4 linked regions of the Homo sapiens genome follow. The protein of the gene in region 4 purifies or fractionates together with the protein of the main gene of each other region. This does not show direct contact. Each region holds a gene or a part of one and is shown on either strand. Other genes may lie near its edges.

Region 1 (6,902 bases), on a different chromosome or scaffold from region 4:
TGTACAAGGTGAATAATAAAAATATTATAAAACAAACACAGTCACAAATAGCCACATCAGACTGATGGGACGCCACACCGTGCACAAGCATCATGTGTTCTTAGAACAAGGCCCTGCGCAAGCATCTTCCTGTCACACACATCTTCCCGTCACCACAGACCACCAGCCCTTCAAATGTAAACGTGTGCAGGAGTAGCCTGGGGGCCTTGCTAAATAAAATGCGGCCTCTGATTCAGTAGCCTTGGACAGGACCAGAGGTTCTGCCTGTTCTGATGAGTTCCCAAGTGAGGCGGACAGTGCCAGTCCACAGACTCACACTTTGAGATACAACACCTGGGCCGTTGTGTCCAAATCCACTTGATAACCTGGAGCACTTATTAAATATCCAAATTGCCAGGACTTTCCTCTGGAAATCTGGATTCAGTATGTTTTGGTTGGAGCCTTGGGCATTTGGGAAAACTAGAATTTCTTTCTCTCTCTTTAGACAAAAGTCAACTACTGTTGAGGCATGGGCTTAATAAATGTTGACTAAAATATCCAACTCAACGACCAATCCTGTACAGTTTTCAAACGGTGTTAGTAACTTATTTGCAAATAATAAGGAACAACTTATTCCTCATCACACTGAGGAGCCGTGTGACCCATCGTGCTGGATCAGAGATGAACACCAAGCACGCTCCTAACACCAATGTCACCCTGAACGTCAACAGGAAACATTGGCCGTGGAGAAGTTGTTTAAACCTCTTGAAGCATCTTGCCAACGACGAGACTTCAATAATCCTCCTTTATTCACAAAAAATTTAAAACCAGTGGCAACAACGGCACATTACTTAATAAAGCAACTAAGTTAGAAGTGCAAGACACTGATTTATATGCTGTTGATAGGTCTGGAGAGACAGGACCATTCACTAGGCTGAAAAGGTGGTGGCCATCTGGTATCTTCCTAAAAAAGTTTATCAGGGTCCTGGCCAGGCGCGGTGGCTCACGCCTGTAATCCCAGCACTTTGGGCCGGCTGAGGTGGGAGGATCACGAGGTCAGGAGTTTGAGACCAGCTTGACGAATATGGTGTAACCCTGTCTCTACTTAAAATACAAAAATGACCCCAGCGTGGTGATGCACACCTGTAGTCCCAGCTACTCAGGAGGCTGAGGCAGAAGATTCACTTGAACCCGGGAGGTGGAGGTTGCAGTGAGCCGAGATTGTGCCACTGGACTCCAGCCTGGGCAACAAAGTGAGACTCTGTCTCAAAAAAAAAAATAATAATAATAATAGAAAATAAAAAATAAAATAAATAAATAAATAAATAAATAAATAAATAAAAAGTTTATCAGGGTCCTAATCCTTTCCCAGAAGGCAAACTAAAGCCTGGAGCAAGACAAGGTCTTCTCCAAGGCCACACAACTGTCAGTGACAGAGGATTCAGTTCAAAGTCCTGTCTTTTCAGGCCTGTGCCTACAAACCAACCGTTAATCTGAGTATTTCAACCTGGCCAAAGGCAACACAAAACACCCAACCCTATATTTTTGGGAAAGAAAAAAACGGGGGCAACTGAGCAGACAGACAGAGGCAAGTACAATGTGGCCTCCTAGATAAACCTCAATGCGCTTATTTCTTTTGGCACAGACACTTCCTTCTTAATTTTGAAGGAAAGTCACATCACATTACATTCTATCTGTCCCTAAGAATTAAACCCTGTTAGGTGAGCCAAACTTAAACACATTAAATTCTACAAATAGGCCAGGCACAGTGGCTCACGCCTGTAATCCCAGCACTTTGGGAGGCCAAGGCGGGCGGATCACCTGAGGTCGGGAGTTCGAGACCAGCCTGACCAACATGAGAAACCCCCGTCTCTATTAAAAATACAAAATTAGCCTGGCGTGGTGGGCCATGCTTGTAATCCCAGCTACTCGGGAGGCTGAGGGAGGAGAATAGCTTGAACCCAGGAGGCGGAGGTTGCGGTGAGCCGAGATCGCCCCATTGCACTCCAGCCTGGGCAACAAGAGCGAAACTCCGTCTCAAAAAAATAAACAAACAAATAAATTCTACAAATAGCCATTAGAATTATTAGGATAGAAAACGATGATGGGTACTAACAGATTCACTCAGAAGGAGTGGGCAGCTAATTCACATTATGTGTAGCTCTGGCTTGGAGAAGACACAGGGCTTGGAGGAGGCAAGACTGTTCAGCATGAATTAAAATTGATTTATGAGCTTGCTGTAGCACTTGGAATAGAAAAAAGAATCTTTTCAGCGCCTTTGACCCCTCTCTCAAATTACACCAGGGTGCAACTGAGGAACAACAGTGCCGACCACCCACTTTTCTCGACCCTTGGGGAAAATAACTTTTTTTTGGAAGGGAGAGTCAGTAGATGAGGCTGCATTTTCCACCAGGGAACACGAACTGCTGCGGGAAGATCCCAGCTTCTGGCTAAAGGAGCCGCAGGCCAGCTCGCCATCCAGTCCCCAGAGCCCGGGCTTTAGGTAAAGCGTGGAGATGCAAATCAGTTTCGCCGCCAAGGACCGGCCAGGCGCGTCTCCTCCCGGGCCTCGCAAGGAACAGGTCAGGGAGACGACTTCCAACTTTCTTGGCCGGACCCTAAACGTTCACCGCCCCTGCCCAGCCGCCCACTCCTGGGCAGCCAGCAAGTCTCCATTCACAAGCGGCTCCATGCTGCCCAGCACTGGCGCCCCTGAGGCGCGGAGCCCCGCAGCCAAATGACAGGACTTGGGGGCAAACAAGGACAAAAGTTCCCACCAGGTGGGCACTGCAGGAAGGAGGCCGACAACCCCGAGATTCTCCGAGTCCCGCGGCACGTGCGCTGCGACGCTGGCCGCTTCCCCCGCCGCTCGGGAAGGTCACGCCGCCCGCACACCGAGGCCCGCCCCGCGCCCCGCTCCCCGCTCCCTCTGCCTGGCGCGCTCCCCGCAGCTGCAGGCGCCAGACCGGGCTGCGCTCACCGCCGCGCCGGCGTGGCCGCGTCCAGCTCAGGCTCCGCCGCCCGCTCTCGGCTCCGGGTCGCCGGCTGGGGCGGCCACTTAACACCCACGTCGGCAACGGCCGGCCCTTCGCCCCTCCCTTCGCGCAGGCATCCCGGACTGCGGCCCCGCGAAGCTCAGGAGCGCCCCTGCGGCTGGCGGGCGGCCTGCCCAGGGCCGTGCCCGAGCCGAGACCGGGAGCCGCCACCGCCCACCGGCCCTGCCACCGCCCCCAGCACGGGAAGCGGAAGTGGGCGTGGGGCCGCGGCGCGCACAGCCAGCCCGCGACCCGGCGTGGTGCTGCCGCCGACCCTGGTGAAGGTGGAGAGCGGGGCCTGCGCCTCCGGAGACTTTCCCACCTCTGGGATCCCCGAGACCCTCTCTGAGGCCGGACCCTTGTTAGCCCGCTGGGCTGGGACTGGGGGCTGGGGGCTGGTAATGTCAGTGGTTGGGAGGACTTACTTTTTAGCTACTTTGACCTTGTTGGGAGGCTAAGGCCTTATTTATAAATTATATTTGAGTACAAAATTATACTCGGGATCCAAGGCCCTAATAGGAAATACAACTAAGTATGAAAATACAGGAATTAGCCGGGCATGGTGGCTCACGCCTGTAATCCCAGCACTGTGGGAGGCCGAGGTAGGCGGATCACCTGAGGTCAGGAGTCCAAGACCAGCCTGGCCAACATGGTGAAACCCCGTGTACTAAAATTACAAAAATTTATCCAGCGTGGTGGTGCGTGTCTGTAACCCCAGCTACTAGGGAGGCTGAGGCAGGAGAATCGCTTGAATCTGGGAGGTGAAGGTTGCAGTGAGCCAAGATTGCATCACTACACTCCAGCCTGGGCTACACAGCGAGACTCCGTTTCATAAAAACAAACAAACAACGACAAAAAAAAAAAGGTGTGGTGACACATGCCTCTATTCTTAGCTATTTGGGAGGCCAAGGCGGGAGGATCGCTTGAGGCCAGGAATTGGAGGCCGCAGTGAGCTATGATGGCACTGTTGCACTCCAGCCTGGATGACAGAGACCTCATCTCTCTCTCTCTCTCTCTCTCACCCACACACACACACACACACACACACACACACCCTCCACACAGTGTAATTTTATTTTACAACTTTAAGCCTTGTTTAGATGTGCTGTTGGATTATTATTTTTTTCTTTTTTTTTCTTTTTTTTTTTGAGACAGAGTCTCACTCTGTCACCCGAGCTGGAGTGCAATGGTGCAATCTCAGCTCACTGCAACCTCCCCCTCCTGGGTTCAAGCGATTCTCCTGCCTTAGCTTCCCAAGTAGCTGGGATTACAGGCATGCGCCACCACACCCAGCTAATTTTGTATTTTTTAGTAGAGACAGGGTTTCACCACCTTGGCCGGGCTGGTCTCGAACTCCTGACCTCAGGTGATCTGCCTGCCTCGGCCTCTCAAAGTGCTGGGATTACACGTGTGAGCCACCACGTCTGGATGTGCTATTGGATAATTACCTACGTTATTTAAGTGATTTAATTGGTGTTAGTGCTTAACATGAATGCACACTTGAGTAGACCTCCCAGGCTGTAGTAGATGCTATGATGGGATCAGAGTGCCTGGTACATGGACACTCATCAGAATCAGCACTTTAGAACTTGGGCTTCTGGACTGTAATCGAGTTACAAAAACAAGCCAGGGAGTTGGGATGACTTGTCCAAAGTGATGGGGAACATAACTAACTGAAAGCAGATCCAGCAGCTGAAACTACAGTTACAGCAGCTTAAAGGGGTTGGCAATGTCACCTGGTCCAATAGCTTTTGCAGCTTCAGAAAATGAGACCCAAAGGAACCCTGATTAAGGACAGACTTGGCTGGGTGTGGTGGCTCATGCCTGTAATCCCAACATGTTGGGAGGCTGAGGCAGGAGGATTGCTTGAGCCCAGGAGTTCGAGTTGAACCTGGGCAACACAGTGATGTAACTGCCCAATGGGTTCTTCTCGCCCGCTGCCTCAACTGAGCCAATTTATCAAGATGGGGGAATTGCAATAGAGAAACAGTTTAATTCACGCAGAACCAGCTGTGCAGGAGACCAGAGTTTTATTATTACTCAAATCAATCTCCCCAAGAATTCGGGGTTTGGAGTTTTTAGGGATAATTTGGTGGGTAGGGGGCCAGTGAGTGGGAGTACTGATTGGTCATGTTGGAGATGAAATCATAGGGAGTCTAAACTGTCCTCTTACGCTGAGTCGGTTCCTGGGTGGGGGCCACAAAACCAGATGAGGCAGTTTATCAATCTGGGTAGTGCCAGCTGATCAATCCATCAAGTACAGGCTCTGCAAAAATATCTCAATCTTATCTGTGATCTTAGGTTTTACAATAGTGATGTCATCCTGAGGAGCTATTTGGGGAGGTTTAGAATCTTGCAGTCTCCAGCTGCATGACTCCTAAACCATAATTTGTAAACTTGTGGCTAATTTGTTAGTCCTACAAGGCGGCCTAGTCCCCAGGCAGGAAGGGGGTTTGTTTTGGGAAAGGGCTGTTGTCGTCTTTGTTTCAACGCTAAACTATAATCTAAGCTCCTCCCAGAGTTAGTTGGGCCTACACCCAGAACAAGGACAGTTTGGAGGTTAGAAGCAAGATAGAGTCAGTTAGGTCAGATCTCTTTGACCATCATAATTTTCTTGGTTATAATTTTTGCAATGACAGTATCAGTGAGCCCCTGTCTTTACTAAAAATCAAAACAAAAAAAAATTTTTTTAAACCTGGTGTGGTGGCGCATGCCTGTAGTCCCAGCTACTGGGGAAGCTGTGGCAAGAGCTCTTGAGCTGTGTTCATGCCACTGCAGTCCAGCCTGGGCGACTGAGCAAGACCCTGTCAAAAAAAAAAAAAAAGGAAAGACCCTGTTATAGATTAGAAAGAGCACTGGACTTGGGGCCAGGATGTTTGTGTAAATGTCCCTGTGTGACCTTTAGTGAGTCACTTAGCCTTTTGTAAACCCCAGCCACAGCATGACTGCATCACTGGTTCCTTTGAACCCCCTGTGTTCCATCAGCCTGCTGGAACAGTCCACCATGCAGGGCGCTTGGTACTCTCCTCGAGCCATTGGGCCCTAGCCTAGTGCTTTCTCTTGTCTTCCTTGAGCCCCTTCCTCTCCTATCCTGACAAGGGCTGTTCCAAACTCTCATCACTCCCAAGCCTTCCACATTTCTCCTCTCCATGCCTCCCAATTTGTTCTATAAGAAACTATCGGAATTTTGCTCAGATTTTTAATCCATAGTCTACAAAGTTACCTTTTTTGGGTTTTTTGCACAAACTCTCATTTATTTGTCTTCTGTCCAACTTAGTTGCTGTGTCCCCTTGCCTAGCCCAATGGCTGGTGAGAATGAGGTTGGAGAAGAAACCAAGGTGTTGGGAGGCCACATTACACAGGCGCTAAGAGAAAAGCAGGGACTCAGCAAAGTTCTGTCCAACTCCAAAGGTCAGGCGCTCAGCTGGTACACTGTGCAGTGCTCCCTCCCAGAGGCTTTTTTTCTTTCTTTCTTTGAGACGGAGTCTTGCTCTGTCGCCTAGGCTGGAGAGCAATGGCGCGATCTCGGCTCACTGCAACCTCTGCCTCCCGGGTTCAAGCAATTATCCTGCCTCAGCCTCCCGAGTAGCTGGGATTGCAGGCGCCCGCCACCATGCCTGGCTAATTTTTTTGTATTTTTAGTAGAGATGGCGTTTCACCATGTTTGCCAGGCTAGTCTTGAACTCCTGACCTCAAGCGATCCGCCTGCCTCGGCCTCCCAAAGTGCTGGGATTACAGGCATGAGCCACTGAGCCCAGCCGAGGCTTCTTATTAAAAGCAAGAGGTGCCAGATGTGGTGGCTCACGCCTGTAATCCCAGTGCTTTGGGAGGCTGAGGCGGGTGGATCACAAGGTCAGGAGTTCAAGACCAGCCTGGTCAATATGGTGA
Region 2 (7,878 bases), on a different chromosome or scaffold from region 4:
AAAAGAGACTCCCCTCAGGAGTCACAGAGCTTTAAGATCTGCCAAGGACGGTGGGGACAATCCAGCCCATCTCAAGCTCCGTGTAGAAGTTTCCCCTTCGGTGTTCCCAAGATAAAATCTGTCACATTTCAGACCCAAGGCAGTTTTATTATTAAAGTGGCCAGTTTGGGCTGGACACAGTGGCTCACGCCTGTAATCCCAGCACTTTGGGAAGCTGAGGCGGGTGGATCATCTGAGGTCAGGAGTTCGAGAGCAGCCTGGCCAACATGGGGAAACCCCGTCTCTACTAAAAACAACAAAAATTAGCTGGGTGTGATGGCGGGCGCCTGTAATCCCAGTGACTCGGGAGGCCGAGGCAAGAGAATCGCTTGAACCCAGGAGGTGGAGGTTGCAGTGAGCCTAGATAGCGCCATTGCACTCCAGCCTGGGCAACAAGAGCGAAACTCTGTCTCAAAAAAAAAAAAAAGGCTAGTTTTAATAACTCCAGAGCTCTTCCTTAATAATAATAATATTGTACTCCCCTAAAGCACGTGAATTACAAAATCCTCATCTCATTTTTTCCCCTCATAGACCCCAGCAAATTATTTATTTCCCATTTTACATAAAGGAAATGGACCTTCAGTGAGGGTCAGTCATTTGTTGCCAGTTTCAGCTCAGTGGAGAAGTGGGACTCTGATGGGGCCCGAGGTCCTCCCAATCCAAGCTCCACATTTTTACCACTGAAACTGCTTTTCCATGAGGTTTCACACCTGCAATCTAGCATGGCCTAGGGGCTTTGGTTTTCCTCCTCAGAAGTTCCAGCTCAAATAGTTTTACTAATCAATTGAAAACTGGCAAGTGGTTACTTAACTCTCACTGAAGCAGCTGCGGGGAGAGAGGTCTGGCCATGCCTGTGGGGCCTGGAATCAGAGGCTCTTCCTTCTGAGTTCTACAGGGACTGCCTCCAACCAGAATGCAGGAATCCTGCAGAGGCCCTGACCTCTGGGTGGATACTATCACACCATTCAAAACACACACACACACATACACACACCACACACCACACACACACCACACACCACACATATACACCACACACTACACACACACCACACGCTACACACACACCACACATACCATGCACATACACACACCACACATACACACCACACACTACACACACACCACACGCTACACACACACCACACATACCATGCACATACACACACCACACACACCACACACATATATACCACACACATACACACACCACACACATACACACACCACACACACACCACACACATATACACACCACACACACACACCACACACACATCACACACACATCACACACACCACACATACACACACCATACACACACACCATACACACACACCACACACATACACACACCACACACTACACACACCATATACACACACCACACACCATACACACACACCACACACCATACACCACACACCACACATACACACACACACCACACACTACACAGACACACCACACATACACACACACCACACATACACCACACACACACACCACACAGACACACCACGCAGACACCACACACCACACACAATCTCAAGGGGATTTCAAATCCCTCAGACTGAATGTCTGTGGTAAGAGGTGGGTTCTAGGGGCAAGCTCTTGCGGGGAAGGGCCATAGCCGGCAGGACCCCGTGGCTTAAGGCTACTGACCAGATGGAGTTCTTTCTGAAACTCCTCTTTGTGATTTTTCTTTTTGAGTTCCAGGCAGTTGTTCTTCAGACCCCTATACTTCTCCTTGCCATCCCCCTTGTCTGTTTTCACGATGTCCTTAGTTCCGCTGAGCTCCACGGAGTAAATTTCTGGGGTTTTCTGAAAGAGAAGCCCAGGTGCAATATTGGCCCCAAATGGGGTTTCCGAAGAGGTGCTGAGCGCCCCTCTGCGGGGTCAGGACCTGCAGGAGTCAGGAGCCCCTTCTCCCTTTCCTTCCCTCCTCTGGGGAGGCCGGAGGGAGTCGGACAGTGGAGTCTCTCCCCCACCTCCCGCCGACCTTGGCTTCCTCTCCGTCCGTGTAGAGGGGAGGCGGGGTGGGCACAGGCCAGCCAGCAGCTCCTCAGGGTGACCCTTCTCTGGGTGGAGCAGGTGGGAAGTTACCCCCCCAACTCCTGACTGATGCCTCCAAGGAGCTGTGAGGTTTCCTTAGAACCTCGAGGTTCCTTAGGCACCTCGAGGTTTCCTCTGAGGTGTCCTTCCCAGGGGACACAACAGCTGTGCGTCCTGTTTCTTGGGGAGGAGGCACCCACTAAGCTTACGACCCTCAGTCCTGATCAGGGGGCCCTAACCGGAAGTCTTTTCAGACCGCAACGAATCCATGTCACCCCATCCTCCGAGTCGGAGCCCGCAGGTGCCATGGAGCTGGCCTAGGACCCCTTGGCCCCTTCTCGCTCCTCTGGACTGGCTTCTTTCCCCAGCCAGCCCCGGCGGCCGCACGGAGCCGTGGCGGGGAGTCAGAGAAGCGGTGCCCAGGCCGGGGGGCGCTCAGAGGAAAGGCGGCCTCCCCTTGCCCCGGGACGGGGCGTTTCTCCTCTTCGCCTTTTCCTCGCTTCCCGTCAGCCTGCTCCGGTCCCCGGGGCCTTGGCCCAGCGTCTCGCATCCTCGGCCGGCGCGGGGGCTGCACGCACCTGGTGCATGCTGGGCTGGTGGCGCCGCGGGCTGCGGGCGTGGAGCGCGGATCCGGGACCGCAGCGGCGGAGCGCACGGTGGGGGGCCTCGTGTGGCTGTGGCAGTGGCAGTGGCTGAGGTGTTGGCGGTGGAGATACCGGCGGCGGCGCGGGCCCTGCACGCACCTCCGCGGCCGATCGCCAGCCGCTGCACCGGGGAGGTGGCACCAGCCTTAAATGCCGCCCGCCCCGCCCACGTCCCCGCCAGGGCGCAGGCCAGCGGACGCCTCGGAGGGTAGGAAACCCGCCGGCGCGCGCGCAGGGAGGGGGACCGACAGCTAGGGGTCGGGAGAGTCCAGGATTGAGGACCCCCTGGGAATCCCCTTCCCTTTAGTAGCCGAACGCCAGGGGGCGGGGTCTCTAGGGGGCGGGTCCGGCATCCAGGTGAGTACAGCCCTGGTTCCGCTGGGCGCCCAGAGCCGGACCAGCTGCTCCGGCGAGCTCCCGGCACGCCCACGTCCTGTCCAGGCTTCCCTGAAAACCCACACATGCCTTTTTTTAAAAATGTAATTTGCCTACCAATAAATCAATTTATAAAAATGTGTATGCAGAGAAGGGGAAATTGCAGTTTCTAACAGCAACTACTGTTGGAGATGTCCCGGCTAGAAAAGGCCAATGTGTTTTTGAGAATGGATTTAGATAGGTAAATTCAAGCTTCCGAGAGAATTTGGGAATAACTGAGAGACTCTGAAGAGTAGCTGAATTAATTTGCCGGATCCAGATAAGAATTTGGAATTCTGAAACAATTTGGAGAGGGAATGGGGAGGAGAGATGAGAGGATTAGGGTCGGTGAGACCACAGGAACCTGGGGCCCCAGGCTGCGGGTGCGCAGGAGCGGAGGCTGTTGGCTGGACTGGGCTGGAGAGGTCTGTCTCCACCTATTTATGTCACTCCCAGCTGAGACTCTATACATGAAGGAGAAAAGAATTTCTGACCCTGAAAGTTGATGTGCATACTAAAGCAGTGGTTGTTTTATACTGCTAAGTTTGGGTTGGTTTGTTATGCAGCAATAGATAACTGGGACATGCTCCATGCTCTTAGTGCCCAGCATGAGTTTTTGCACAGGATAGAAAAGGTATTTTCCCCCTGACACTTGAAACATAATTACTCCAGATGAGAAAGATAGCCTGAAAACAATATATCAGAGAGATATTTAGCAGTTAACAGTGGAGGAAATCAAACACGTTCTTTTAAAAGAATGAATCGTGAAGTCTTAAAGTCAGTGAAGAATATTAATTAATGGAGAGGAACATAAAAAATAAAACCCACGAATAGAGTTTAGTAATCAGCACCTATTTAGAAGAACAATAAGAAATTGACATGATTGAAATATATGAAAGGGAGTAGAGATAAGTTTCAAAAGAGGGGGCACTTTATTGGGCCCTTGATGCTCTGCTAATAAGTTTCCATTTAGATAAGGACTAATAGGAGGGTGCTAAGTTTTATTCTTTTTGAAAGTTATATATCAAATATGGTAAGAAAGATTGTCATTTTGACCATATTTAAAATGACTAAGAGTGAGGAGTCCAGAGAAGCAGCAAAAGTAACAATCCCATCATGCAGTGACTAGAACATCTGGCAGAAAACATGAAGAGCATTGGGTACATTTAGAAAAGGTAGAAGAAAAACAATAAGCTTGTGCCCGGCCGGGCGCGGTGGCTCACGCCTGTAATCCCAACGCTTTGGGAGGCCGAGGCGGGCGGATCACGAAGTCAGGAGATCGAGACCATCCTGGCTAACACGGTGAAACCCCATCTCTACTAAAAATACAAAACAATTAGCCGGGCATGGTGGTGGGCGCCTGTAGTCCCAGCTGCTCGGGAGGCTGAGGCAGGAGAATGGCATGAACCCGGGAGACGGTGGAGCTTTCAGTGAGTGGAGATCGCGCCACTGCACTCCAGCCTGGGCGACAGAGCGAGACTCTGTCACAATAAAAAAATTAAAAAAAAAATAAGAAAAAAAAGCTTGTGCCCAATTCTAATTAGGAATTAATTATAACTTCCTGTTCCTTTCAGATGCTAAATTTCCATAATAATTTCAGAGCATGACTATAGTTGGTGGTGAGGGACAATTGGGAAAAGAAGCTTATTTTGAGGGAATTTGAAGTGTTAGCAGTTAGAGACGTGGTTTTGTAAAGTAGCAGTAGAGACAAAGATACTTTCTCATGGCATATTTGTGATCTTAGATTTTCCACACCTCTCTGTTCATCATGGCTTTCAAATGAGACTAAGGGAATGTGTTGTACCCGACATAGTGAACTGTCTCCATAGTGCTGCACACATAGGTCTTTCCCCGCTCTCCCTCCTTCTTCCGTTCCAAAAGGGCAGAATCTGAAGCCTGGGTTCCTCCCTCTGTGAAGCAAGGATGACAGCAATGAGTCACTTCTTAACTAAAATGATAAGGGACAGGAAGACTCCTAGTGGCATCTGGTGTAAAGATACACATCATGGATTCTCTAGAGTTGGAGGGAACATTAAATTCTAGTCCAAACCCAAGCAACAGTGTGCTTCTGGGGAGCTCTGGGTTCCATTCTTGGAATACTCTTCAAAGGAAAGGTTTGCAGATGGGGTGAGAAATACAAAATGTGTACGAAACTGATGTTCCACTGTCTGCTGATAATCCAAGCTAAGGGTTTTTTGGGAACAGGTGGCTGCTGCTCACCTTAAGCTGTTCCAGCCCCTGCTCCAACTATTGGGACAGATGTAGAATAGAGAAGCAGGGTCCGCAGAGAGATGTCTCTGAGCTCAAGGCCAGTTCAAGCTCCAAAAGCAAACTCAGATCCTAGGGACTTGACTGAGGGATGGGGAGCGGGGAGGGGAAGTGGGCTAAAAAGAGATGGTGACACAGCTTTAGAAAGTACTAACTGATGGCACCCTCCCTTGATCCTTGGAGAAGATTGCCGCTTTTTTTTTTTTCTTAAGACGGTCTTGCTCTGTTGCCCAGGATGGAGTGCAGTGTGATTACAGCTCACTGCAACTTCCGCCTCCTGGGCTCAAGCCATTCTCCCACCTCAGCCTCCTGAGTAGCTGGGACTACAGGCACAGCTAATTTTTGTGGTTTTTTTTGGTACAGAAGGGATTTCACCATGTTGCCCAGGCGGGCCTCCAACTCCTGGGCTCAAGCGATCCGCTCACCTCTGCCCCAGAAATACTGGGATTACAGGTGTGAGCCATTGAGCCCAAGATTGCTGCTTATTCCTTTTGGTATCAAGGGTGGAAGACGGTTTATTACTACAAGCAGGACAAAAACATTTCCATGGTCAGGTTCTCTGGCACCTCTCTGATCCTGCAGAGTTCTTGGCTTCTGCCAGGGACTAGTCTCAGCTGTCACTGCTATGGCCCTTGTGGCAGCCTCTGGTGCCATTCAGGTGTCCTGGAGTGTTGACTTCTACCAAAGAAGGAAAATGGGGCCATTCCCCAACCCTAACTCCAGAATCGTGTCCTTTGCTGCCTCTAGTCATCTGGATACCCGACTCTGCCTTGAGGTGGGTAGGCCCTGGGTAACTGTGATGCAGGCATCTGGAGGCACTTACCTGTAGAATCAGGAATTGGATTTCTCCTGAGACACGTTCGGTCCCAGGGCCATCACCCACAATGTTCTGAGCAATGTACCCTGATCCCACCCAGTGCAAATGGCTCCTAGAGGGTTGGCCATAGAGGCCAGGCTGCAGCCGGGAGACTTCCTCAGCCCACATGTGCTAGTAGCAGCTTCTGCTTGAGGTTTTGCTGCTTTTCAAAACAAGCCTATCCACGCCAAGGTTCTCTATTATACCTGCTCATATTGACGAACATTATATATTTGGGATAGGATGTCATGATATATGTATTTTCAGCCTGTTTTAATTAAATTATATACTTCATGTATTTAAGCTGTACTAGATATAGGGGTGGTGGGGAGATATGGTACTAAAATCATGCCATCCTCTGCCCTCTAGGAAGTTGGACTTGAGTTGGAGAGACCAAATTAGTGAAGAACCAATAGTAAACGGGCCAAAAGGGAAAATAATTTAGCACTAACTGGTATGGGCTCTAAGTGCCTTCAGAGTTTAGAGGAAAGAGGTTTCTCTGGGGGAAATGGCATAACTTGTACTACTTAGGATTAGTTATTCAGATTTTTTTCCATCCCTTTGCACCCGCCAAGAAAGTGGGGAGAGAGTCTGGGAGAGCAGCTGAGTTGGGGCCTTGTGTGTGTGGCTTCCCTTGGGGACCCCAGGAGGTCCCTCCTGTGCGCAGGCTGGCCACCAGCTGGCTCAAAGAGGTGTGACTGTGAGGATCCCCACACGGAGCGGGAGGATCCAGATGACAATGGGAAGAGGAAGCTCCACTTCCTGCTTTGCGTCCGACTGGCCTGTCCCTCTGCTGCCCACTCGGCCTCTCCCTGTCCCTGGATTCCTCTCCTACACATGGGACAGTCCCCACCTGGAGCCCTCCCTACGCACCTGTATCCAGTCAGCACGACTGGCTGTGACTCGGCCAGTGTTCCTCTCCCGACGAGAGGAGGGCCGCCTGGGGTTGGAGCCAGGATGAAAAAACAAAACAAAGCTTCAGGCAAGCACGCTTCCACACTGTGTCCTCATTTCTTCATGCACAGGAAATCCTGAGATTGGCATATGAACATCCTCCAGAAAAGAAATACTGGCTTTTCAGAAATTAGCAAGTCAGCTCCAGTGATGATCCTGCCTGGAGCTGTAAACACCATGACTGATGGGAATCAGCAGTGGCGTTTCCAGAAGCAGGTGCGGGCCTGTGAGGGGCTCAGACAGGCACACCTTCTCCTTCTGTGGGTACAGCTCCCCCGAAATGTCACAATGGCTGGGGTACTTTAGGTTCCCACAGTTTTCATTCCCTGTGACTTATGTTGTGTAATAAGATGCTTTTTATTATATTTAAAGTGTACAACATGATATTTTGATATACTTATGCACAGTGAGATAGTTATGATTATCAAGCAAATTCTCATATCCATCCCCTCCCACAGTTACCCTCTGTGTGTGGGGTGGCGGGGAGAGGGCCTGTGTGATAGGAGCATGGAAAATCTACTCTGTGCACATTTCCTGGATCTAATACAATGTTGCCACTATAGGGCTCATGCTGGGCCTCGGATCTCTAGACTTCTCACCCCACATATCTGCGGCTTTGGGTCCTTTGCCCTACATCTCTCCATTCC
Region 3 (7,472 bases), about 110 Mb from region 4:
CAACAAGAGCAAAACTCTATCTCAAAAAAAAAAAAAAAAGAATTTTGTTTTCCTTCCCATTCTTCCTTGGGCATTTGGATCTGGAAGTGAAGACAGTCCAGTATAATTTGATTTGTGTTGTTCTTCCCTCAGGTGGTTACCTTAGTCAATAAGAAGGTAGCTTATGAGGGCATAAATGATGCAACCCAAATGTCAGATGTGGCCTCTCTGCCTCCTTTTTTTTTTTTTTTTTTTTTGAGATGGAGTCTCGCTCTGTCGCCGAGGCTGGAGTGCAGTGGCGCGATCTCAACTCACTGCAAGCTCCGCCTCCAGGGTTCACGCCATTCTCCTGCCTCAGCCTCCCGAGTACCTGGGACTAAAGGCGCCCACCACGACGCCCGGCTAATTTTTTGTGTTTTTAGTAGAGACAGGGTTTCACCACGTTAGCCAGGATGGTCTTGATCTCCTGACTTCGTGATCCGCCCGCCTCGGCCTCCCAAAGTGCTGGGATTACAGGCATGAGCCACCGCCCCCGGCTTTTTTTTTTTTTTATTTGAGACCAAGTCTGACTCTGTCACCCAGGCAAGAGTGCAGTGGTGCGATCTTGGTTCACTGCAACCTCCGCCTCCCGGGTTCAAGCGATTCTCCTGCCTCAGCCTCCCAAGTAGCTGGGATTACAGTCACCTGCCACCATGCTGGCTAATTTTTTTGTATTTTTAGTAGAGATGGGGTTTCACAATGTTGGCCAGGCTGGTCTTGAACTCCTCACCTCAGGTGATCTGCCGACCTTGGCCTCCCAAAGTGCTGGGATTACAGGTGTGAGCCGCTGTCTGGCTGCCTCTCTGCCTCTTCAAGATCCAAATGCAATGGGCTTGAACCTCAATATTCACATTTCCCAACTCATGTAAGTGCAAAGTCCTACACAAGTTTTTGCAAGTTCCACAAGGGCTTGTGGTCTCACAGTTACCTCTGCTTCCAGTCTCCTTTTTCAACTGAGACCTAACAAAGCACATTGCTCAACTCCCTACTCATGTACTCTCACAATTCCCCTCTCTCAAAAAGCGTTCCTGGGTGTAATAGCCCTTCCTGAAGTCTTGAGAGTCACATAGGATGGTCACGTCCTAGTGTAACAAACAACTTATCCCATTTTAGGTATCCCACTGCTGAAACACTCTTGTCAACTACCATGGGAGAGTTTCTTCTGACTCTTTACCTATGTAGCACCTATCCTTACATTGATTTTCTTACTCATCTTTTTCCTTTTCCCCTCCGATCTCTATTAACTTGCCCTCCCATTTTGTCAAGTGAATTCCAAATTTGCCTTCCCCCAACCCTCCCACCCCCACCTTTTTTTTTTTTTTTTTTTTGAGATGGAGTTTCACTCTTGTTTCCCAGGCTGGAGTGCAACGGCGCAATCTCGGCTCATCGCAACCTCTGCCTCCTGCTACCCCTAATTTTGTTTAGATGGAGTCTCACTCTGTTGCCCATGCTGGAGTGCAGTAGCACAATCTCGGCTCACTGCAACCTCCGCCTCCCAGGTTCAAGTGATTCTCCCGCCTCAGCCTCCCGAGTAGGTGGGAGTACAGGCGCCCACCACCACGCCCGGCTAATTTTTGTATTTTTAGTGGAGACAGAGTTTTACCATGTTGGCCAGGCTGGTCTCGAACTCCTGGCCTCAGGTGGTCCCAAAGTGCTGGGATTGCAGACGTGGGCCATCATGCCCCACCTACCCCTACTCCCTTTTTAAACATAGAGAGCAATTTCTTCTCCCAAAGTTACGTATTCACTCTCATCAATTGAGGCCCCAAGCAGGACAAAAGGACTTTCTGTGCATTGGGATCTGTCATTCCTGGAAGGCAGTTGTGGTTTAAAAATAGCACTTTTTTTTTTCTGTTATACGAAGCACAGTGTTTCCTATTTGTTGAATGCTTACTGTATGCCTACCACTCTATCAAGTCCTCTCCAGTAGCTTGTGTTCTCATTTGATCTTCCCAACAACTCTGAGAAGCAGCTCTTATTATTGCTCTTTCTACAAATAAGGAAGGGGTGTGCGTGCGAGAGAAATTAGGTAATTGGCATAAGATCACACAGCAAGCAAGGACTGAAGACCAGGTCTGCCTGGCCCCAAGCCTGTGTGTGCCCTTTCTAATTTACTATACCGCCTTTCAGAGGAGGGAGAAGGAGAAAGCAACCAGAAGAACTGAGGCTACATAAAAGCAATACCATCTGTTCTCATATTGTCTCACAACTTTAAAAGGATGGCTCTATATGCTGTCTCATTATTCCTAGGAAGAAAGAATAATCATTATCATCTCGTCTATTTTGAAATGAGGGAAGTAGGGCCTTGTGAGAGAAAGAGAGTGAGGGAGCAGTTCAGCGTAGCATGTTTGATTTTGCTATTACAGAGGTACCAGCAGTGGGTGATTAAGAGCTCAAGAGTGACCATGGGAGCTGGTGGCCAAGGTGATGTGGAGGACAAGGACTGAGGGACCAGGAAATCTCATAGCTACTGAAGTCACCAGGAGGATGGCAGGACAGGGGCTAGTGAGGATGACCATGAGCCAGGGGCTGCAATCTGTAATGCATAAGGAGCAATTGGGGGGTCAGTGATGAGGAGGGGTTGAGGGGGGTATGGCTGGAGAGCACAGAAGAAAGAATTTTTGCACAAGGGTGGAAATGGCCATGCCATCCCCACATCCTAGTTTTATAGTATATGGGGAGTGGAAAAATGAGAAGCCTTCTAGCAGAGGGCAGCAAAGGAGGCAGTACCTGGAGGAGGCTCAGGCAAAGAAGTCACCTGAGTACTCTGAAGAAGCAGAGGGTATAGCAGAGTTTGTTGACAAAAGAACAGGATTCTAGAAGGCACAGAGGAAAGAGCTGCCAGTGTGATGGGCAGTGTGAGTGAAAGGGCTGGGCAAGAAGCTCAGAAGAGTAAGCGTCTGAGGCAGAGGCCAGACAAGCAGAGGAGCTGTCAGCTTGGGTGGTTCCTAGGCTGGAGATGTACACTGTAGACAGGGTCATAATGGAACTTGGGGGGAAAATGGTTTTGGTATTTGACTCAGACCTCTAAGATCTGAGATGGGGGAGAAGTGTGGGGAAAGACAATGATTCTAGAGCAAGCCTTCAGCTGGCTCCTGTGACCTCAGGAAGACTGGAAGTCCATATCAGGATTTGAGGGTGGGGTATTTATTGCCTCCTCTATCTGCCTCCTCTAGTGGAAGTGGGACTTCCTAGGGCCAGGCCAGGCAAGAACATTTTTCTACTCCTGTTGACAGCCTCCTGGTAATGGGAAACCATTGAGAGGTTTTTGTTTGTTTGTTTGTTTGGTTTTTGATGGAGTCTGGCTTTGTTGCCCAGGCTGGAGTGCACTGCTGGAGTGCAGTGATCTCGGCTCACTGCAACCTCTGCCTCCTGGGTGCAAGCAATTCTGCCTCAGCCTCCCAAGTAGCTGGGACTACAGGCATGCACCACCATGCCCGGCTAATTTTTGTATTTTTAGTAGAGACAGGGTTTCACCATGTTGGCCAGGTTGGTCTCGAACTCCTGACCTCAAGTGATCTGCCCACTTTGGCCTTCCAAAGTGCTGGGATTACAGGCGTCAGCCACTGTGCCTGGCCGAGAGTTTTCTTAAACAAGGTTGATGGTAACATGGTGACATTTTTTAAAGGGTTGCTCGGGCTTGTGTCAAAATGATTTTGGTATCTGACTCAGAATGAATGGGACCAGGAAGTCTCACAGCTACCGAAGTCACCAGGAGTATGGCAGAACAGGGGCTAGTTAGGATGACCATGGGCCAGGGGCTGCAATCTTTAATGCATAAGGAACAATTGGGTGTCAGTGATGAGGAGGGGTGGAGGGTGGTATGACTGGAGACCACAGGAGAAAGAATTTTTGTACAAGGGTGGAAATGGCCATGCTGACACCACGTCCTGGTTTTATAGGGTGAATTGGAGAGTGAAGGCAGGAATTAGGAAGCTGTTGCATTAGTCCAAGCAAGAAGTGATGATGCTGGAGTCAGAACAAGGGCAATGGAGACACAGAGGAAGGGCAGGGATATGTTAAGGCGGTGGGATGTGGGGTGTGAAGGAAACACAGATAGGGTAGAGGACAGCGTCCAGGTTTCTGGCTTGGTTTCCGCTTGTAGTCAGCCTCCCTCTCTGGGCTTTTGTGAAGACGGAGCCATAGAACGGACCGGACCAGAAAGCAGTTTGGAAATGGCAAAACTGCTACCCATCATCAGCTACATTATCATCAAAGCTCTCTAATTACCCTAGTAAGTTCAGTCAATGGAACGAGGCATGACAATTAAGATAAATCACGAGAGTCACCCAGACATGGGGGACCTGGAGGTCCTGAGTCACCTCGGATTACACCTGCTAGGAGTTGAGGGCCGGGGCGGGGCGAACACAGACTCCGCCCTTGGGCGGGGCCTGGATGCGGCCGGAGCGGAGCAGTGCTGGAGCGGGAGCCTCAGCCCTCAGGCGCCACTGTGAGGACCTGACCGGACCAGACCATCCCGCAGCGCCCCGCCCCGGCCCCCTCCGCGCCCTCCCGACGCCAGGTCCTGCCGTCCCGCCGACCGTCCGGGAGCGAACCCGTCGTCCCGCACTCGGAGTCCGCGGTAAGGGGCGCGGCCCCGGCAGCCCGCCCGCGGAGGATCAGGGACCGATCCCCGGCGCGGGGCGCTGGGCACCGAGAGCGGGCGCCGAGAAGGAGCGCGGGGCAGCGGAAGGAAGCCGGGGGAGGAGCGAGGGAGGGGGCTCCGCGGCGGCAGAGGTGGGGCTCACCTAGGGAGGGGGCGCCGAGGGGGTCTCCCAGACGTTGGGGGCAGCCGGGGGAGCTCCAAGGGCGGGAGGGGAGCAAGAAAGACGGCGCTGGGGCTGGGAGGAGAGATGGGGGGCAACTGGAGGGCAGTGAGGGATCGCTGGGGGAAACGGGGGCGTGGGGGGCGGGGGAGCTGCGAGGAGGGCGGAGTGGGGCTGTGCGGAAAGGTGGTACCGGGCAGCCGAGGGGCAGCGAAGGGGGCGGTGAAGGGAGCGGACTGAGGGGAGCTAGAGCGGGGGTGCGGGGGGAGGCATGGAGGTGAGGAGCTGAGGGGAGGGGACTGGCTGGGCGGGGGTCGTTTGGAGCTGGAGGGGACTGAGGTGCCGAGGGCAAGGGGCGCTGGGCAGCTGGGGAGTGTCTGGTTGGGAGAGGGTCGGGGGTGGGGATGTGGGTATGGATAGCTGGGAAGGAGAAAGGCAGCAGGGCAGTGTCTGGTCGAAAGAGGGTCATTTATGGGGGATGTGGGTATGGATAGCTGGGGTCGGAGGTTGAGCCCGGCTGGGGACCGGCGTGGGGGTAACTGTAGATGGAAGACGAGGGGTGGGGCTTGGGGGCGGGAAGCTTGGGAGAATGGAAGGGTGAGAGGCCAGGTTGGGTCTACCCTGCTGCAGAGGAAGGGGGCAGGGAGCCGGTGGAGACACAGGGAAGTGGCCTTGGAAATGGACACAGGGGCCTACATTCTGGTCAGGAGTGGAGAGGAGGCTCTGGAATAGAGTAGGGTCTGGCGGCTGCAAGTGGAGGAATCGTGGGAGAACTTGGAGTGTATAGATAGGGTGGTGGGGCGCTGGGTCAGCCTGGGGAGGAGGCCAGGTGTGGGTCGTGGTGTAAGGGTGGAAAGGTAATGGGGGCTGGAGTGGTGTCCACGCACTAGCGGTGTCTCGGCCACTCAGGAGTCCAAGGAGGGGACCCAGGCACTGGACCTTGTTACACGGGCACCGGGGATCACAGAAAATAAGAGAATCGTGGACAGAAAAAGTCATCCAACTCTGTTCTGTAGTCCAAGCATGGAAGCAACTTTGGGGAGGGCAGGGCAGCAGCCTTTGGAAGCTAAGAGAGATGTGGAGGAGGTGGGAGAAAGATGGGCCCTCAAAACACACACACACACACACACACACACACACACACACACACACACACACAAAACAAGATGGGCCCTCTTCCCCCGGCTTCCTGGAATCCAGATGGAAAGGGGTGGGAGACAGTAAAAGGAGAGGATGTGTGTGTGTGTGTGTGTGTGTGTGTGTGCGCGCGCACAGGTGGGTGTCCACCTGTTCTGTGCCTATAAACAGAGGAAGACAATGGAAGCCGTGAAAGGCCCTATCTATAGAAGTGGAAAGCCCTGGTGCCCTGTGGGAGCCAGAGAAGAAGCATTTTGGGGGAGGTGGGTGGGTTGGGGAAGCCTTCCTGGTCATGAAGGATTTAGCTAGCAGTGGAGGAAAGTGTGTTCCTATCAGAGGAAACCGTATGGGAAAAGGCAAAAATCTAAAAGCATCTCCAGTCCAAGAAATAGATCTTCAGTTTCTTAAAGATTATGACATGAAGGGAGGCATCAGTAACCTATACAAAATATTTAAATAGATTTCCCCTCTAAGCTTGAAGCTCCTAGGGTTTCTCTCCATCTCCCTAAAGTATAGCACAGGTCCTGGTGCATAGTAGGTGCTTGGTGAATGTTGATTGAATGAATAATTGGTGCTCCTGCCTCAATTTCTTCATCCATTCCCAAGAATTGTTGTGAGAATCAAATAGGATAATGTGGGTGAAAAGAACTTTGTAAACTGTAAAACAATGTACAAAGAGAGAGGCCACTGATGTTATTCTGCAGGTGTTCCTGTTTTGTCAGTGGACACACCCATGGCTATCTCTTTCCAATCTGGAGGAGGAAGGAAATGAATATCAAGCATCTGTTGGTGCAAGATGGAATGCTTTGAAAGCATCTTGTAGAATGCTAGACATTTAGTAGGTGCTCAATAAATGGTAGCTATTGTGATATTGTTTCTGTGGCTCTAGGAGACCTGGGAAAACAATGAGAAGGTGGTGATGGGTCAGCAGTGGGGAATGGTCTAAAGACAGATTGAATTAGAAAAGTAGAGTATGGCTTAAAGGAGGATGAGGTCCACATTTGCCCAACTCCCTTCTTATTCTCACTGAAATGCTCCAAGTAGGAAGACAGGGAATTACATTATTGAGCCCCTGCTATATTGCATATACAGTTGACCTTTGAACAGCATGGGTTTGAACTGTGTAGGTTCACTTATACCTGAATTTTTTTTTTCAACCAAACACTGATTAAAAAAAATACCATGGTGGGTCAAGCGCAGTGGCTCAAACCTGGAATCCCAGCTATTTGGGAGGCTGAGGTAGGAGGATCGCTTGAGCCCAGGAACCTGAAGCTACAGTGAGTTATGATCAGGCCACTGTACTCCATCCTGGGAAACAGAGTGACACCCATCTCTTAAAAAAGAAGAAAAAGAGAAGAAAATACAGTAGTGAAGGGAGGTGAAGTCTGTATATTCAGAGGACCAACTTTTAGTCTAGGTGGGTTCCACTGGGCCAACTGTGGTTCTTGAGTAGGCGTGGATTTCGGTATATATGGGGGTCCTGGAGCCAATCCCTTGCCTATACCAAGAAATTACTGTACTATTCTAGATGTATAACCCACATTACCTATA
Region 4 (7,022 bases):
TTCAGCAGATCAGCAAACCGCTGGCTCAGCACCTCTGAGTTAGCTCAGTGAAAGAAAAGGCTGACGCCTGCCAGTGAGCTCCGGAGGCTTCCCCTTTCTAACAAGGTCATTTCTTCAAATAGGGAGTTCCCATTGTTTCAGAGTCACTTAGATGTTCCAGGCACTAAGACAGGTCTCTCTCTAGGGTCTTCCCAATTTAGCGAGCGTAAAAACAATGGTGGAAAGGAAAAACCTGGAAACTTTGCACAGCCCAGAGCCTGGTCATGGGCCACACCCGCTATAAGGGAAGCTGAGACACATAGCTCCTAGCTGAGCAGCTACATGCCCAGAAAAGACTCGTATTACCACGAAAGCATGAGCGCAATCTCACTGGAGCTAGTAGCCTCTGCAATGCTGGGTGGGATAGGCAGGTTGTAAGTGATTTTTCTGGAAGCTGTGAACTCCGTAAAAATGTTTACTTGGATGGTCCCAGAACTTAAATTAGTATATGGTTCATGAGGATCCTTCCCCACCCCCAGTTCTGAATGGAAACTGCCACGAACAAGAATGTATCTCTTGAAGATGGCAGCCTTTGCTGACAGAACCACATGAAAGGCAGGAAGGAGATCCGGCACGCTCCCACCGTTACGCTAACGTCGCAGTATCTCCTAGGTGAACTGCATTTGTTTCTCAGATTCTTTTTAGTTTTCTTTTTCATCTTCCCTAAAAAAAATATTAATAATAAGATTTTGGGACTTGAGAAGAGAGAGAGAGAGAGAGACACGCTTCTGTGTTTCTGTGACAACACTTTCAGAGACAAGAAAAAAAACGCCCTCTGGCTTTTTCCTTGGATGTGTGACTGTCTGCCAAGTTATCACGTTTAAACCACAGACAATAGGTGGAGAGGGCCCAGGGTGGAGACTCGAGCAAAGCACTCTTCCCAAATGGCATGTGAGTTATTGACCAGCCTGCTCGGCCGCCTCTAAGAGCCTCGGGAGTAGGGGGAGTTCCAAACCTCTGGTTCAGAAATGTTCAGGTAGCATTTCTTTGTGAATGAAGGAGTCAGGAGCTTCTAGACCCCAAGACAACTTTGATTTCTCAGCATCACCATCCAGAGAGGCCTCACTACATGACTGAGCAAAGAGAAGAAGAGCTGGAGCTTCTGCCACAGGAAATGGTGGTTTGAAAATGGGAGCACAGGTGAAGCGCCGATGGCACAGACACACACTTGCCTCCTGGCTCCATCTTGTTATTGTAAAGTATAAGCCAAGTGGGTCACTTCTCCTTCCCTTTGATTCCTGCCTTGGGCCATTCAGCAGGTGACCCTGCATTCCTTCTGGTAATTTTTAAACAGAAAGCTACGTGACAGTCTTTTTCTAGATCCATTTTTGTGGACTCTCATTTAATTTAACTTAGTTCATCGAGTGCATATTGAGTGCCCTCCTGCCCTATATTGTTTCCGGTGGAATGGAGGATACAAATAAAGAATAAGGTACAGGGCCTACCTTCATGGAATTTGCAATCAAAGTGGGACTTCTACATCTTACTAGCTAGAAAAATATAATATTTAAAGAAACATATTATAATCAAGGAACTGCTACTAGAATTCCTCTTTGAAAAGGAATTGTATTTGTTTATGATAGTACCTTAATAAATGCTAGAAGGCAGGTGGAGACCCCCCAGGAATCTGGGTGTGGGTTGGATGGTTCTGTATGAGAATGGAGGAAGATGATACTTGTGCAGAAATGGGAAGAGAAAGAGAGAGTCTGAACCTGCTAGGTGGTGAAAGCTGCCTGGTTCACAATGGAATTTGCTCCCTGGGACCCTTCAATCTTCAGCAGAGAACTTAAACCCACAAAATTATTGGTGTAAGTTTTTAAAAAAAAGTTTTTTTGGTTTGTTTGTGGAAACTGATTGTATTAGTCCGCTCTCATCCTGCCAATAAAGACATACCTGAGACTGGGTGATTTATAAAGGAAAGAGGTTTAATTGGCTCATAGTTCCACATGGCTGGAGAGGCCTCACAATCATGGTTGAAGGCGAATGAGGAGCAAAATCATGTCTTACGTGGCAGCAGGCAAGAGAGTTTGTGCAGGGGAGCTCCCATTTATAAAACCATCAGATCTTGTGAGACTTATTCACTCCCATGAGAACAACATGGGGGAAACCACCCCATGATTCAATTATCTCCACCTGGCCCCACCCTTGACACATGGGGATTATTACAATTCAAGGTGAGATTTGGGTGGGGGCGTGGCCAAACCATATCACTGATGAAGTGACTAAACCTTGCACCCAAGGAAGCACAGAGTAGAGCAAGCAGAGTTATAGGAGCAAAGACTTAGAGAACCATGAGGAAATTACTCCCAGAAATTACAGAAATCATGTGCAGCTTGACCTGAACAAACTGTAATAGTAGCACTTTTTTCATACTTATCCAAATTTCTAAGAGCATGGGGTCTCTGACATTTGATTTCCATGTAAATATAATTAAAGAATAGCAACAAATGGATGAGCACCAAGTATAAAAATACTTGGGCCTACTATACAGGTAGGGAAACTAAGCCATAAGTAAAGAACAGATGGGACTGAAGCATCTCTGGACACTGGTGAAGAGACTCCTTTGGACTTAAGATCAAACTCATTTTCTTGTCTTTCCAATCAATCAACAAGAATTTACTGAGACTCTATTATGTACTGAGTACTAAGAGAGCTGTTAAAGTAGTGTAAGAGATGGTCTCTGGCCTCCTAGAACCTAGCAACTATTTGGAGAATTGAGGCTAGCAGAAGTAATTGACACTTACTGACCACATGATGGATTCCAGATATTGCTCTAGGCACTTTCCATACATTACTATATGGGTTTCTCAGAACAACACTGTGAACTTATTGTTATGCTCATTTTACAGATGAGGAAGTTGAAGCCACAGAGGGTATGAGTAGCTTATCTGTAGTCACAGAGCTATCAAGTGGTAGACCCAGAATTTGAACTTATCTATCTGGCTCCAAATACCATCACTGAAAATGGTCTGCATGGTAAAGATGATGTTGCCAAAACTCAGGTTCTAAGATACATGACATAAACCACAGGTGCTGCAGGAGTCCAAGGGACAGGGAAGAACAAGAGCTGGGATGGTCAGGAAAGGTGACACAAAGAAAGGAAGATTGGCCTGGGCATCAAGGCTAGGCAGGCATGGTGGACAGCTTAGGGTGCAGCAGGAAGGAGAGTATGGAGTGGAGCCTGGGGCCAGGAATGAGCATGTGTTGGATGGAGGATGATGAAGGATGGGTTGGCTGCTCAGAGGGCTTTTGACTCAAAAGGTTTGAGTCAAAAGGGCTTTGACATCACTACTGCCTTCTTTATGGGGACCGCATCTCCAGAGGCTAAAGCACAAACCACAAAATCTGCAGTTCCCATCTTATCCAGCTCTGCCACTGACTTTTTCTATGACTCTGGATACTCCTGTCTGTGTCTCAGTGTCCTCAAAATAAAATTAGTGGGTTGGGTGAAATAAGCACTATACTATAGTTCCCTTAAGGTTAAAAAGGTCTATGATTCATATTTGTATCCAAAGATGAGGAAAAAAATTAGAGTTTATGAAATATCTTTCAGGACCATGGCCAACTTGTCTCTCAGATCTAGATGGACTGGCAGAAGCTTGTCATAGGACAAAGGTAGCAGATTGCTTTCATCCTCTAGAGACCCTAGAAAAGATAGAGAGGGCCGGCGTTGTCATGTCCTGAAGCCTTGGTGCTGCACCCAGTCATCGTTAGTTTCTGTGAGTTGGTGGGCAGCAGAGCAACCGGCGTCGGGCGCGAGGGAGAGGAGGCTGACTCACCAGGCATTACTGGTGCAGTTTTGTCTTTTATTTTCCAGTTCAGAGGTACTACTTTGTCTGTTGGTTTTATTTTTTTAATCTCAAGTGAAATTGGAAAGAAATATTATCTTTTAAAATGATATAAATGGTGGGGGTGTTTCTTCTCAAATCAGTTGTTGTATTGGAAGTTCCCAAAGTATCTATGATAGAAGAAGAAAGAGGAACTAGTCAAAATAGTAAGTGCTACTATAATGGTTTGCTGGATCAGTTCCATAGGCTGACGAAACACAAAGTTCAGGCTACTGGCTTTGCTTCTTATCCTAGTATTAGAGTGATTTCTCCAGTGGTTCCTAGTGTCGATATCATAAACCTTGAATGAATCAATCTGTCTCAAACACACACATACACACATACACACACACACACACACACACACACACACTCCTGCACAGAGGGTTCTCAGTGACCATAAGTCACTCAGAGTGGAGCTGCTCCTTCCTCCAGCATCAGCAATGATTCAAAATGTCATGCTTTATACAAATTCAGAACTCTCTGCCTGCCTCCTAACTTTTTTTTTTAATCAGAGCATAAGACTGTTGAAGTTGGTATCTGGCAAAATTAAAACATTTAATTTAGGGGATAGAACCTATAACCAAGGTGTTTGCAAAGTCAGTTCAGTGAGATTCCTTGGGCTAACTTGATGTGTGAAAGGCCTAAGGAGAAAAAGAATCTTTTCAAATCCAGAAGGCAACTTCTTGCCAGCTATCAGGCTGGAGGCCCCTTTGGATCTTGTAGGCTGCATTTTATGAATTCATTGAGACTGTCTGTATCTTTGGTCAACTCTGTAAACATCTGATTGTGTCCACCATGATTCTTTCCTTTGGAACCCGACTATTTTTCTTTCAATTTCTGCCCCACAAATTCCTCACAGGTTCAACAACAAGCAGGCTTATTCCACAATCATCCTTATAAGTTTCCCTTACACATTAATGTTAACATCTGGTGTTACTCTATTTAGAACCTTAGTGCGAATATTCTACTTAGAACCCTAGGGCTTCAGCTCGGTCCCCACTGTTCATTACCCCGGTATAACTTTTTCCAAGCCCATAAGTCTCTCTAACTCTCCAAGAAGTCTGTCTTTAGTATTCAGCCACATTTCTACTACTAAACCAAGCTCTAGTTCTTGAGGTTCTCCAGGCTGTTTTCCTTCTCCATAAAATGAGAATAATGAGTGTACCTACCTTGTAAGATTATTGTGAGGATTAAATATGTTAGTACACATGATGCACTAAAAATATGTGGCCCATTGCAAGTGCTCAATAATTGTTCATTATAATCTTATTGAGCTACATGTCTTGTTTACTGGGGGTGATAATTCTCATTCACTGTTTGTCAAAGTGTTGCTCCTAGTTCAAAAGGATTTGATAAAGTGGGTAAAGGAGAGAAAACAATAAAAGTTTTCTCTCTGATTTTGAGCCTTGATGATTAGTTCTCGGGCTAATTTTAAACATGAAGATGATTTAGAGGAAAGACTAAATACTTTCCTTTCAGTTCAGGTCTGCTGGGTTCAACCCAGTTATTTGCATGAAAGGACAACAATAGCACTATTATGTTTATTTTTAAAAAAGATAAGTAGATCTTTCTTCCTCCCAGTGTCTCATGAGAATAGCGTGAATTCACAGGGACGGCACATGGAACCATTATATTCTCTTTACCCAAAATGGATACAGGACACATTAGCAATCTTAAGATGGAGAAACTGGGCAGAGAGATTGACTTAGGAGAGATGAAGATAATTTAATGTTAGACATGTGGTAGTTGAGTTAAAAATAAAGCATTTGGATAGAAAAATCTTCATGAAATTAAGAATGTGAAAGTATAGTGAGAGAAATTAGAATAAGAAAACAGATACAAAAATTTTCAGTGGTCTAAAGCTGACCTCTAAAACCATGAAAACAAACGTCTCCCTTGGGAGAGAATGCAGAAATAGAACATGAGGCTCCATTATCCCACTTTCATGTAAGATGTTTTTAAGCTCAGAATACTTTTGAGATTGCTCTTTGACTTCTTTTTTTTTCCAGAAACAAAACCATGGGCAGTGTATGCTGGGCTGTTAGGGGGTGTCATCATGATTCTCATCATGGTGGTAATACTACAGTTGAGAAGAAGAGGTAGGTGTCTGGCAATAAATAGATTCTTATCACACTCTCTGTGGTAAGCAGGGGACCTCTCTCCACAGGCTCGGACTTGCTCTCACAACTCTGGCTTTCTGCATGGGGCCACCTTTGCAAAAATAGTAGATAAACATATCCTGGGACCTTGCTTAATTCAGTCTAATTCAACATGTCTTGATCCCCTCTACTAGGCTGTGGAAAGAAATAGAAGAGCCACAGGTTTCTAATGTGAGAGACATTATTCAGATAATTTCAGTTTAGTGTGACTAGCACTGCCATCAGGGTAAACACAGGATGCTGAAGAAGTGAACAAGAGGTTTAAGAGTATTCACTGGGAACAGAATTCAGAAAATTATTGGATCTCATCCAAAAAGTCACCAGGGTTAGAATGAAACCAATAAGGCACAATTATTCCCCTGCAGTTGAAGTGCCTAGAGGTACCATCCCCTGTCCTCTCTTCCAAATTTCCCTATGATACAATATCTCAGGGCATTGTGCTCCCCTCAGCCACCTTGACTACTACCAACCAATACTGGAGTCAAAATGTCCTGACCCAAGACCAGGAGAGATGCCCCGGCTGCCTTCCCATGGTAAGGATAGAACTTGATCCTCATAACACTGAGCTGATGACTGATTTCATTCTCAAGTAGATCAGTGTCATCTACACACAACCTTCTTAGAAAAGCCCTTACCTCAGCACTCTGATGTTGGTTTTGCATATATAAAAAAATCTAGATCATAGCACAGCGACCTACTTGTGTCTCATTTCCTCCATCTAAGAGTTAGCCAGGTAGGAGGGATGGGTGATTCAGATAGAAATTAGGTTGACAGCCTATGGGGCTCGGGGTAGGGCAATCACATTTAGCTCATACTATAAGGAAATAGTGAGATGACCCAGGATGAGAAAACTGAACTTAACTTATCCACATTAACCTACCTAGTAAAATTGCTGGGATCCTACGCCATACTCTTTCCTCAACCACACTTGGCTTATCACATGGTTGTGCTCTAAGGGAATAGTGCTCCCCATCCCACAATTCCCCACTACCTT

The links.
Region 1: the proteins of SLAMF1 (region 4) and SLC25A15 purify together in Homo sapiens (affinity purification with mass spectrometry; 2 studies listed by BioGRID and IntAct, with this or other methods). This does not show direct contact.
Region 2: the proteins of SLAMF1 (region 4) and ATP12A purify together in Homo sapiens (affinity purification with mass spectrometry; 3 studies listed by BioGRID and IntAct, with this or other methods). This does not show direct contact.
Region 3: the proteins of SLAMF1 (region 4) and RAB3B purify together in Homo sapiens (affinity purification with mass spectrometry; 2 studies listed by BioGRID and IntAct, with this or other methods). This does not show direct contact.

The regions. Positions count from the first base shown.
Region 1 is NC_000013.11:40,785,721-40,792,622, reverse strand, and holds the start of SLC25A15 (mitochondrial ornithine transporter 1), read right to left. Parts: upstream 3,013-6,902; 5' UTR 2,960-3,012; intron 1-2,959.
Region 2 is NC_000013.11:24,675,548-24,683,425, reverse strand, and holds the start of ATP12A (potassium-transporting ATPase alpha chain 2), read right to left. Parts: upstream 3,019-7,878; 5' UTR 2,683-3,018; coding exon 2,674-2,682; intron 1,865-2,673; coding exon 1,706-1,864; intron 1-1,705. UniProt on the Homo sapiens protein: The catalytic subunit of a H(+)/K(+) ATPase and/or Na(+)/K(+) ATPase pump which transports K(+) ions in exchange for Na(+) and/or H(+) ions across the apical membrane of epithelial cells.
Region 3 is NC_000001.11:51,987,680-51,995,151, reverse strand, and holds the start of RAB3B (ras-related protein Rab-3B), read left to right. Parts: upstream 1-4,451; 5' UTR 4,452-4,600; intron 4,601-7,472. UniProt on the Homo sapiens protein: The small GTPases Rab are key regulators of intracellular membrane trafficking, from the formation of transport vesicles to their fusion with membranes.
Region 4 is NC_000001.11:160,623,042-160,630,063, reverse strand, and holds part of SLAMF1 (signaling lymphocytic activation molecule isoform b precursor), read left to right. Parts: intron 1-5,878; coding exon 5,879-5,968; intron 5,969-6,478; coding exon of another isoform or gene 6,479-6,561; intron 6,562-7,022.